3 linked regions of the Homo sapiens genome follow. The protein of the gene in region 3 interacts with the protein of the main gene of each other region in a biochemical or structural test. Each region holds a gene or a part of one and is shown on either strand. Other genes may lie near its edges.

The links.
Region 1: the proteins of HNRNPUL2 (region 3) and ERCC6 form a complex in vitro, tested with the Homo sapiens proteins (one large-scale study listed by BioGRID).
Region 2: the proteins of HNRNPUL2 (region 3) and ERG form a complex in vitro, tested with the Homo sapiens proteins (one large-scale study listed by BioGRID).

What each region holds. Positions count from the first base shown.
Region 1 is NC_000010.11:49,522,122-49,525,621, reverse strand, and holds part of ERCC6 (DNA excision repair protein ERCC-6), read left to right. Parts: intron 1-844; coding exon 845-1,589; intron 1,590-3,500. UniProt on the Homo sapiens protein: Involved in repair of DNA damage following UV irradiation, acting either in the absence of ERCC6 or synergistically with ERCC6. Involved in the regulation of gene expression.
Region 2 is NC_000021.9:38,397,478-38,400,977, reverse strand, and holds part of ERG (transcriptional regulator ERG), read left to right. Parts: intron 1-332; coding exon 333-404; coding exon of another isoform or gene 405-616; exon of another isoform or gene 617-906; intron 907-3,500. UniProt on the Homo sapiens protein: Transcriptional regulator. May participate in transcriptional regulation through the recruitment of SETDB1 histone methyltransferase and subsequent modification of local chromatin structure.
Region 3 is NC_000011.10:62,724,658-62,728,815, reverse strand, and holds the start of HNRNPUL2 (heterogeneous nuclear ribonucleoprotein U-like protein 2), read left to right. Parts: upstream 1-1,358; 5' UTR 1,359-1,659; coding exon 1,660-2,197; intron 2,198-4,158. Other genes in the region: TTC9C (tetratricopeptide repeat protein 9C), read right to left, coding at 655-682.

The sequences.
Region 1 (3,500 bases), on a different chromosome or scaffold from region 3:
AGATTTTAGAATATGGATTCCTTCCTATTAAGCCTTAGGTCTTTTGGTATTTTGGTTATGTGGTAATTTTGCCAGAGATGAATTTCAACTAATGAAAGAGGGATACTTTCTGGTGACTTTACACTTATGGTGTAATGTCTTCAAGTCAGTTAACTTCACATATCTAACACAGTGCTGCTGTCCAATAGACCTTTTTGCAGTGATGAAAATGTTCTCTGTGTTGCCCATTATAGTAGCCATTAGTCACGTGTAGCTCTTGAGCACTTGAAAAAGGGCAAATGCAACTGTGGAACTGAGTTTTTAACTTAATGTAATTTAAATTTAAATAGCTGCAGGTGACTGGTAACTGCCATGCTGGGCAGCATAGAGCTGACATTTATGTTTTTCCTTTTTAGGTACATGGTGATCCCTGTTTTTGGTTTTACTGTCTCTTGAATTTAAGTCCATCTGAATGTTGGTTTTAGCAATGACGTGAGAACTTCGGAGCTTGCTTCCTCATGGACGACTACTCAGCTGATAAGGAAACACAGCTAAACTTGACTATTTATAACTGTATTTATACAGTAATAAGCCTATCTTTGGATGGCAGAGAGTATATTTATAGTGAAATATTTTGGGGAAAAGTTACTGAGAAGTTGTCTTTTTGAACAGGAATATATTAAATATAGCATGATGCTATAATTTTATTCTGTCCTTCATATGTAACATGCTTTAGTACATGGATGATTCTTTTTTTATATGAGTTATTTGTAGCTGCCTAATATTTCTTGAAAGAGTGAGCATTTCTTTTGTACCCTCGGAAAGTTTCATGCTAGTGCGAAACGCATTGCTATTGTTCTTTCAGAGCCGGGGCCATCCAGTCTTGGCAGCATGCTCATGCCTGTCCAGGAGACTGCCTGGGAAGAGCTCATCCGCACTGGCCAGATGACACCTTTTGGTACCCAGATCCCTCAGAAACAGGAGAAAAAGCCCAGAAAAATCATGCTTAATGAAGCATCAGGCTTCGAAAAGTATTTGGCAGATCAAGCAAAACTGTCTTTTGAAAGGAAGAAGCAAGGTTGTAATAAAAGAGCAGCTAGAAAAGCTCCAGCCCCAGTCACGCCTCCAGCCCCAGTGCAAAATAAAAACAAACCAAACAAGAAAGCCAGAGTTCTGTCCAAAAAAGAGGAGCGTTTGAAAAAGCACATCAAGAAACTCCAGAAGAGGGCTTTGCAGTTCCAGGGGAAAGTGGGATTGCCAAAGGCAAGGAGACCTTGGGAGTCAGACATGAGGCCAGAGGCAGAGGGAGACTCTGAGGGTGAAGAGTCTGAGTATTTCCCCACAGAGGAGGAGGAAGAGGAGGAAGATGACGAGGTGGAGGGGGCAGAGGCGGACCTGTCTGGAGATGGTACTGACTATGAGCTGAAGCCTCTGCCCAAGGGCGGGAAACGGCAGAAGAAAGTGCCAGTGCAGGAGATTGATGATGACTTTTTCCCAAGTTCTGGGGAAGAAGCTGAAGCTGCTTCTGTAGGAGAAGGAGGAGGAGGAGGTCGGAAAGTGGGAAGATACCGAGATGATGGAGATGAAGATTATTATAAGCAGCGGTTAAGGTCGGTCTGTGGGGATTATAAATACATTGTACTGTTTGCTTTATCTTAGGTGACAGGTTTATTAATATGTAAGCATTCTAGATCCAGCTTAATATATTAGACCCCCCCGATTATACAGAGGTTGGATTTCTGCAGCCTTAACCTGCTAGAAGCAGTGGGGCCCCTGAGTCCTTAATGATGCTGGCCCCAAATGCATGTACTTCTAGGTCTTTAGTTGGATTTGGAGGCAAGTCTAAGATGAAAAACTTAAGGGAAGGCTGGGGCAAGAGGCATACAGAGGGCTGAGTGTGAGCTGTGTCGCCTTTATACCGACAGTCACCCTAGAATGAGTATCAGGAAAAAGAAAAGGGTGAATTAATGCATACTGGATAGGGGTTTCTGTTTTCCCTTTTGAAGCAGGAAAGTAATTTTAGAGAACTTTTCTTCAAAAAAGAGCTGAAACTTAAGCTTTGGCATAGAAAGAATAAGCTTGCTTTTGTAAATCCTTCCTTTGTCTTGAGAAAATAGTCATCTGCATAATTATAAGCCACCATCATGCAAAAAGTGTACTTTGTATGCACAGCATACCTTTCTTTTCACTGTTGTTTTTTATGTTAGAGACTGACTTTGGCTTTTAGCTCCATGACATTGTCATTGTATAAAGCAAGCACCATAAAAGGGAAGGTGAACATGTGAAACATGAAGTCTGAATTGCATATTGCCACACGTTTTCTGAGAGCCAGGAAAAATAATCTGTATTGCAGGCCTCCCCATGGTGGCCCACTGAACACTGTGCTACTGCCGCGCATTTCAAGTCTCCTTGACTTAGAGCTCACTTAGCTCTAAGGAAGTCAAAGGGAAAAAGGAACCTTATTACTTTTAAAATACTTGATAGTGGGATGGCTTTTTCCCAATCCTCAACAGTTTTTTCTTATTTCTCAAGGTGAAGAGACCTAGTTTGTTGTATTTATTGGCCTTTGTGAGTGAAGGTTGACCTGGTGTTTTTTCTTGTTACTTAGAACTGCTCATTAACCCCCGTCCAGACACTACAGACATTCCATAACCTTTCCGAAATAGATGTGTCAATTCTTTTAAACAGTAATTTGAGGACCTGTGACTTAAATCCTGTTCTTTAGAGTTGCGGCACTCACATTCTAGTAGCACCTTATGTAGTAATGCACAGATGAGGGCTGGCTTATATTTGTCATCCCTCAGCACAGCTTTCGTTTCTGTGCACGTTTATTACCTGTGAAGTTGTTTGAGGAATGTTGCCCAGTACTCTTGAACAGTGAGCGGTGTCAGACTTTTTCTTAACTACTGCAAGGAATTAATAAAAGTGTTAATCTCAACATATTGATTATAAATGGAGCAATATATATTTTTCCAATTAAATTGGGTCAATATTAAATATGTTTAAAATATATCAGTATTTTGATCAAGAGCAATTTATTTTGATTGAATTTTAAATGTGGGTTTAGTTAATTTGATGGCAATAAGTTTTTCTTAATAATGTTAAGATTGTAAAACAATTTATTATTTCCAGAGCCAATATTTTGCTAAAGCTACAGTGAAATCTCAAATGAATTTCAGAAATATCAATAACTCTTAATTGCCACCAAAATACGATAGCTCTTAACATTTTATAGCTACAGTTATTAAGGCTGTTAAACTGCAGATATCCACATTGAAATATTTGTTATTACATCTCCTTTGGTGCTGTTTGGTTTGGGGGATGAAAGAAAATAAAATGCTCAGGATTGAGAAGCATATTAGAACTGCCAGTCTCTCTATATTTTGTTACTCATTGCTGATCTTTGTAGACTAATTGAAATGGTAATGCTATTCCCTTGAGAAACAGAAAGACCTTTAGGGTTGCTTGTCTTAGCAGTGGTTTGACGATGGATGATTAGAATAAAGTCATAGAGTTTACAA
Region 2 (3,500 bases), on a different chromosome or scaffold from region 3:
ATGTACCATATAATTTTTTAATAAAACGAGATTGCCCAGTGGGAAGTGGGATTGAGGGGGACACAGATAGGGCTTCATCAAGAAGTTATAAAATCAAAACACAAAACGCTTTATAGCAAACGGGGCACAGGAGTACACCAAGGCTCCAAGTTTCACTTCCATCTTGAGAATCTGACAGGTGCACCTGTCTGTTTCTCCGGAGCTCTGTTAAGGCAGGTTTGAGGAGGTCTCTTCCCTTTGTTGTCATAGGGAAAAGTAGATTTGGCGCTGATGTTGAGATCGACAACCACAACAAAAGACCTTCACATGTTTGTCTTTCCTTTTGTCTGCAGGGGGTGCAGCTTTTATTTTCCCAAATACTTCAGTATATCCTGAAGCTACGCAAAGAATTACAACTAGGCCAGGTACGAAAACACCCCTGTGTGATCTCTTCATTGAGAGACATCCCAGATGTCCTGCTGAGATCCGTGCCCTAAGTCACGTGATACAAAGAGAGCTGATCCCGGAGCTGAAGCCAGTCCCAGACAGTCTTATTCTGCCTCTGTTGATTTGGAGACTAAATCCACTCAAACCATTTCATTCAAAGACCACACTAAAGGAATTAAGAGCAGATTAGCCCTTTAACTAGCTTTTCAGAAAGACAGATGGGCAAAGAAGGCATCCTGGATGCCTGGCAGTTAGGAATAGGCCGACTTTTGAACTAACAGAAGGATCTGTCCCTCCTCGGGGGAAGAGCACAAAACAAGGACACTCCCCAGATTCACAGTGACCGATTATCAGTATGTCACAAGAAGCCAGTCTTGCAGAGCAGAAGCATGCAACCAGTAGTATTTACATCTGAATCTTACTGCCTGTCCTCCAAATGATTTAATTAGGTAATAAATTTACATGCCATTCATGCAAAAATAAACATCTATCAAGTGCCCATTAGTGCCAAGCGTGGTGTTAGACTCTGGGAATATATAGATGAACCAGGCTTCAGTAAGCTTCCTGTCTTCAGAAAGTTTACTTCTTCATTCAGCTTGGTTTGTTCATTTGCTGAGTGCCTCCTCTGTGCCAGCCACGGATGGTATGATGGTGAACAAACCGAAATGTTTTGCCTCCAGTTCTAGATGTTTCAGTAGAGTGACCTAGAGCCAGAGAGACACATATGTACACATAAATGTTTTCCCTAATGTGATAGATTTTATGGTAGAGGAACCACTTCTAGCAATACAGGGCGTAGGAGCAGGGGTGGGGAGGAACTCAATCCCCCATGAAAGGCATAAAGATGCTTTCCAGAGGAATGGCCACATGGCAAAGGGGAATTAGATGTTTGCCAGACGAATAATGAGCAGGGAGAGAGGGCATTTCCCAGAAGGGTATAGCTTGCCTTTAGCATTTGTCCTCTCCCTGGGACTTACATCAGCCCGATAAGCTAGGTATCATTGTACCAGCCTCACAGCTGATGACATTGTGTTCAGGGTGGTGGGATGGTTTCTCCATATTCATACATGCTTCCAGAATTCATGTTAAACTCTATCACATATCCGGAATACACAAGTCTCAGTTCGAACTGGTTCAAGATCTAGGCTTGGCAACTACTCTTTCTTTCTAATGAGAAAGACTGGGGGCCCAGGGAGCTAAAGAGAATGAATGAGGAAGCTTCTCAGGCTGTTCAAATACTGACACTGCCCTGGTTACTGCCTAGTGACTTCAGGCTGGCAATTTTCTCTTCTCTAACGTCAGAGAAAAAGTTTACTGTCTTGCTCCTGGGAAGCATGATGGAAAGGCTTAGCAGCTAAGGGGTACTAAGAGGTAGTAAGTCATCTCTGTCATGTAAAAGATTTCACAGGCCATTGAAACATGGGCAAGACCCAGTGCCTAGAGTCTGCAAGATTGGTCCTAAAGACATCCACCACGTGTATTGCGAGTGGAAAATAGAAATTCATGTTTGACTCAAGCTTTAGAGATTTTGTAATTCTGTGAGCATTTAAAAAATATTTCCATATAAACTAAAAAAATAAAAACTATTTCCAAAACATTTGGCTAGGGTTTTAAAAATTTTTTTACTTTTTAATTTTGTATTTGTTTGTTTATGTTAAGACATCTCATAGGTGCCTCTGACTGAGTTGCAAAGCCAGGGGTTGTGAGCTAGTATTATAAACTGTGTTAAAAGATCACAACACTGGCCAAATTCATTGGCACAATCTCTCTGTCAGACAAGCCAGCTGACTGATGCTACCTGGTTAAGACAGTGGGTCCTGGAGCTGCTTTGTTTTCACATTTTAGGATATGGTGGATTTGGAAGGTATGGCCCATCCAGGTGGATGGAGAAGAGGGTGACTGTGAGGATGTTGGTTGGGACTCCCTCTCTGCCCAACCCAGGGAAGGCAAGGGTGGCAAACTCAGACACCTCCCATGCCGCTCTGATGGTGGTCTTCCATGGGCCCATAATTTGAGCGTGACCTGGGAGAGAGCACACTTCCACAGCTCCACTACTAGTCAAGTATGTTTTCGCGACTCAGTTTGTACCTGAAATAACCTGTTTTGACCACTGCTACTGTGATTATGAGAACCAATACAAATATTGGTATCTGACCTGTAAAGAATTTAAAGCAGACTGAACAAGCCAGAGGACTATTTACTGTAGGCCCTATTCAGGGACTTGAACTTGGAGATAAGAACTAGTTATACACCTCGGGTCATCCATTGCTAAGCGATCAACCTTAAAGGACTGCTCCTGTGGAGATAAAAGCTGTGAACCTGCAACTGGAGAATGAACGTCGTGATGGCTGAGGGGGAAGAGCTTTTGCATCACTAACTTTCAGAGCTGAACGAGCTCCAGAGGGAGGTCACTGGGAATCTGACGATATCCCTGTGGTCAGTGGGTACCTGACTACTTTCAGAAAGGTGATTGTTGACTGTTTCTTTGAAGGTCCTTGGGGATACAGACCCAAATCCCTGTCTCCTCCACTCTTGGTTTGCTGTGCCATGATCTTCATTTCCATACCCTTTGTCTAATCCCACATCCGAGGGAACCGAACTCTGGTCAGCGTTATTGTGCTGACCATGAAGCAAGCCAGGCTCCTAGGTAACAACTCTACTTAGACCAGAATCTGTCTCTTCTCTGCATGGTGGCCGTTTCATTATAGAGTCCCTGATAGAGGAGACAGTGGTGTTCAGGGTTTACTGGTTAAATTAGACAGCATTCCGCACCCTTTCTGCAGAGACTCCTACACATGTGTGTTGTCCTGCTGCATCCACCTTCCCAGCACTTCCTCACCACCCTTCCCTCCTTCCCTTCCCACTGTGAGTCACCCATCCCTGGGTTACTGCCCCAACCTACCTTTTCTTTTCTTTTATCTTCTTTTCTCTTCTTTTTTTTTTTTTTTTTTTTTTGAGATGGAGTCTCACTCTGTTGCCAGGCTGAAGTGCAGTGGTGCAATCTCGGCTCACCACAACCTCTGCCTCCCGAGTTCAAGTGATTCTTCTGCCTCAGCCTCCCGAGTAGCTGGGGC
Region 3 (4,158 bases):
GTGAAGGAGCAAGTGAAGCTCTGGGGTTGGGAGCAAAATAACTGACAGTAGCAGCCAATTTAAGGAGGCAGGAAATTACCCTTCTTCCTGGAGAGTCCCCCCACAGGGACCTGCGGTTTGCTTGTTTCTACTGAAAGCCCCACCTCTCCTTTCTGCAGTCTTTTTCTCAAGAAGTGCAGGCAAGTAGTAAGGAAAGGGATGTGGGAATAATGAAGCCCAACATTAAGTGACTTCCTAAAGAGGCGATGTGGGGGTGGATGAGACTTTCCGAAGAACTCAAGCAAGGCCCTACTCAGGAATTGTTGCGGGCGTGAGAACGCCTGGGACACTGGCTTCCGCCTTTCTATTGGACCCGCCCCCCCCCGACCTGGAAGTAGAAGGGAGTGGGCGGGACTAGTGCTAAAACTCCAGAGGGCTTCAAGCAATTCTAACTCTTCTTCCTTATTCAACATTTATTTGTTGACGTCAATAAATAAACTGGGAAGCCGAGGTGAACCACCAGCGACACTGAGGTGTCCACATAAGCGTCACAGCTGCAAGCCCACCCGGCGCCGTGACCAGTTCCTCGCCCTCTGCAGATGCCCAAACCTGGAAGTCTCCTGGGCTTCGGTTTACCAGCAGGAGCAAGGAGAGGAAAGGGTCAGAGATGCGTACAGTTTGGTATCTTGAGGGTCGCGCGCATTGCGCCACACCACCCAATCAGAAGAGGCTCCGGAAAAATAATCCCGCAGAAACGACCCCGCCTCCTCAGCGGACCAACCTGGGAAAAAAAAAAAAAAAAAATTCCCCTGGCAGCTTCGCCAATTGGAAAAATCCGGACGATCACGGATGACCAATCGGAACGGCAAATGACGATTCAAGTTGTCCAATAAGAGAAAAAGGGCGGGTTCAAGGGCCTCTGTTGCTGGGTAGAAGTTGAGGCGTTGAGGAAAAAGGAGGGCCCGGATTACAGTATTTCTTCGTTCTGGGGAGCCCTTTTGCTTCCTAGCCAGAAAAACAATTGCTACTAGGCTTACATGTTGCAACACATTCTCTAATGACTTTTTTTTTGTCGTTACTGCTGCAAGCACAGACAGTAGGGAAAAGAGGCTAGCGACCCCTAAAACGCCACAGCAAATGGAAGTCAGACGGAAGTAAGGGTGGTGGGAGGGGCATGGCATCGGGGAGCTCCGGGCGGCTGCGCAGAACTCCCCGGCTGGAAGTACTGAAAGACCGGCGCGCACACGCTTCCGTGCTACGAGGCACTTGAGCTGCAGCCAGCCTTGCCCGTCTTGGACTCCACTGCGGCTGCGCGATAAAAGCACCGGCGGCGATTGGCCCGGGGGCGCCAGAGGGCGGGAGGAAGCGGGAGGAACTCCGTCGTCCTCCGCGCGCGCCTGCCCGCGGCTGGGGAACCAAGGGCCTGGAGGGGAAACAGCTCCCTGCTGCGTTGTTTTGGGCTCCGTGAGCCGAAAGGGGGAGGGGAGACGAAGGAGAAGCAAACACTGCGCAGCGGGACCGTGCGCGGCCTCCGCTCCTGCGTGCGTGCGCTCGCTCGCGCGGGCTCAGTGCTGGCGCGTGAGGCGGAGGCGGGCGGCGGCGGCGGCGCCTGCGCGGTCGGACTCGGTCGACGGTTCGCAGGGGAGGAGGCGGCGGGAGGCGGAGGAGGCGGCGGCGGCGATGGAGGTGAAGCGGCTGAAAGTGACCGAGCTGCGGTCGGAGCTGCAGCGGCGGGGCCTGGACTCGCGCGGCCTCAAGGTGGATCTGGCGCAGCGGCTGCAGGAGGCGCTGGACGCCGAGATGCTCGAGGACGAGGCCGGCGGCGGCGGGGCCGGGCCCGGCGGGGCCTGCAAGGCGGAGCCTCGGCCTGTGGCCGCGTCGGGCGGCGGCCCGGGCGGGGACGAGGAGGAGGACGAAGAGGAGGAGGAGGAGGACGAGGAGGCGCTGCTTGAGGACGAGGACGAGGAGCCACCCCCTGCTCAAGCCTTGGGTCAGGCCGCGCAGCCGCCGCCGGAGCCCCCGGAGGCGGCAGCCATGGAGGCCGCGGCCGAGCCAGATGCTTCCGAGAAGCCGGCGGAGGCCACGGCCGGGTCAGGCGGGGTAAATGGTGGCGAAGAGCAGGGCCTCGGCAAGAGGGAGGAAGACGAACCCGAGGAGCGGAGCGGGGACGAGACGCCGGGATCCGAGGTGCCGGGTGACAAGGCCGCCGAGGAACAGGGTGAGGAGCTGGCAGCCGAGCCCGGCTCCAACCTGCCGGCTGCGCCCCTGATCTAGCACCCCGCCCTGCACCGCAGGGTCCGAGTCCTTGTTCTCGCTTGCCTCAAAGTGCCATTTGATGGAACTCCTTTCATTCTCTACCCACCTTTCTGAGGGGTTAGGCCGCCTCTCGTGGCCCTACTCTTTGCAGGAGGAAGGTTCCTGCCTAACTTGGTTCCTTGGTGATAGTGGATGGCAGTGAGTGATTTTGCATGCGAACTACTTGTGAGCTACCTGTGGAACAGTCTCCCACGGTGCTTGTTATATTTTTCTTAGCTGAGAAAGTGCTAAGCAATTGGGGATTACACGGAGAACTAGGCCCACAGTTAGAGGGTCAGGTCTTTGGGCTACCTGACCTAACTTTTTCGCCGTAAAAATGTTAAGCAAAAATCGAAGTCCGTCAAAGTCCGTTCCATTAAAAGCATGTTACCAGAGCTTGAGCCACAGAGAATCTGAAAATCCAACCTTGCTCCTCTTTGAGCTGTAAGGGAGAGCCTCTAGTGTAACAGTGTCGAGTTTAATAGTTAACCAGTGAAGAGAAAAATCTTAATCTAGTTCATTTAGAGTTAGTTAACGTTACTTGGCTAGGGTTTTTATCTTGCTTGGATTATGATTAAATTTTAATTGTCCCACTGAGTCCGTGGATAGGCATATTTGTAGATTTGCTGAACACCTGGTGCTAGTCTTTTACGTTTCAGGTCCCTCGGTTCCTGAATGGTAATGACTGAGGTGCTGTTGGGTCCGTTGAGTAACCTTGTGGAAGAGGTGTGTTGTAGAATCGCCCCAGGGAGTTAGTGACCTTTCTCCTTTCTTTTGAAGTGATTGGATGGTTAGAACTGATCCATAACAGTGTGTGTCCGAGTAGGGAGGATAAGTCTTACTATAAAGTGGGTGGCCTCAGTTCTTTTGTTAGTAATATTTTTAGGCCACTATGGAGAGTCATGGTATAATCGGAACCCATTGTACAACAATCACATGCAACTTGCAGATTGTTTGTCCTGTGTCCCGGAGCAAAAATCCCATTACATAACCTTTGACTTATGTATATCCCAAAGAGCAGATAAAAAAATAATTGAAGGATAGGCTGGGGGTGGTGGCTCACGCCTGTAATCCTGGCACTTTGGGAGGCCAGGCGGGTGGATCACCTGAGGTCAGGAGTTTGAGACCAGCCTGGTCAACATGGTGAAACCCCTGTCTCTAGTAAAAATACAAAATATTAGCCGGGCGTGATGGCGGGTGCCGGTAATCCCAGCTTCTTGGGAGGCTGAGGCGGGAGAATGGCTTGAACCCGGGAGGCGGAGGTTGCGGTGAGCTGAGATCGCGCCACTACACTCCAGCCTGGGCGACAGAACGAGACTCTGTCTCAAAAAAATATATATTGAAGGATAAAAGACTGCTTTAAAGAAATTATTATTAAAAACCTTCCTAGTGTTGCAAAATACAGAAGCCTAGGGAAAAACTCCAAGTTTTTTCCTCTTGCAGAGAAGTTGCTAAATATACAACAACACCTTTCTGCCCCAAATGTGCAGTCTAGATGCGGTATTATTTATGGATCTCTTGTGACTTAGTGGTTTGCTCTTGCAACTTTCAGTAGAAGTCCCTGATAAAAATACAGCTGTGTATAATGCACTTGAGTCCATTTGCCACATGAATAAAGCCATGGATGGCTGTGTATTTCAGTGCAGGAAAGGGAAATAAAAGAAATTGAGGCTTCTCTGTATCATGAAGGTGTGGAAAAGTGTTACAAAATATGTACTAACTGCCTACCTTAAATCTAGATCTGACAAGAGTCAAAATTAAATTAACCTTTGAGGTTTTCTTAGAGACCTAGAGGATATTTTTTATGTCATATTGATGGGGAAATCTGCAAGTTTGACCTGATTTAAGTGGATAAATTTAGAATGCAAAAATTGTCCAATTTTT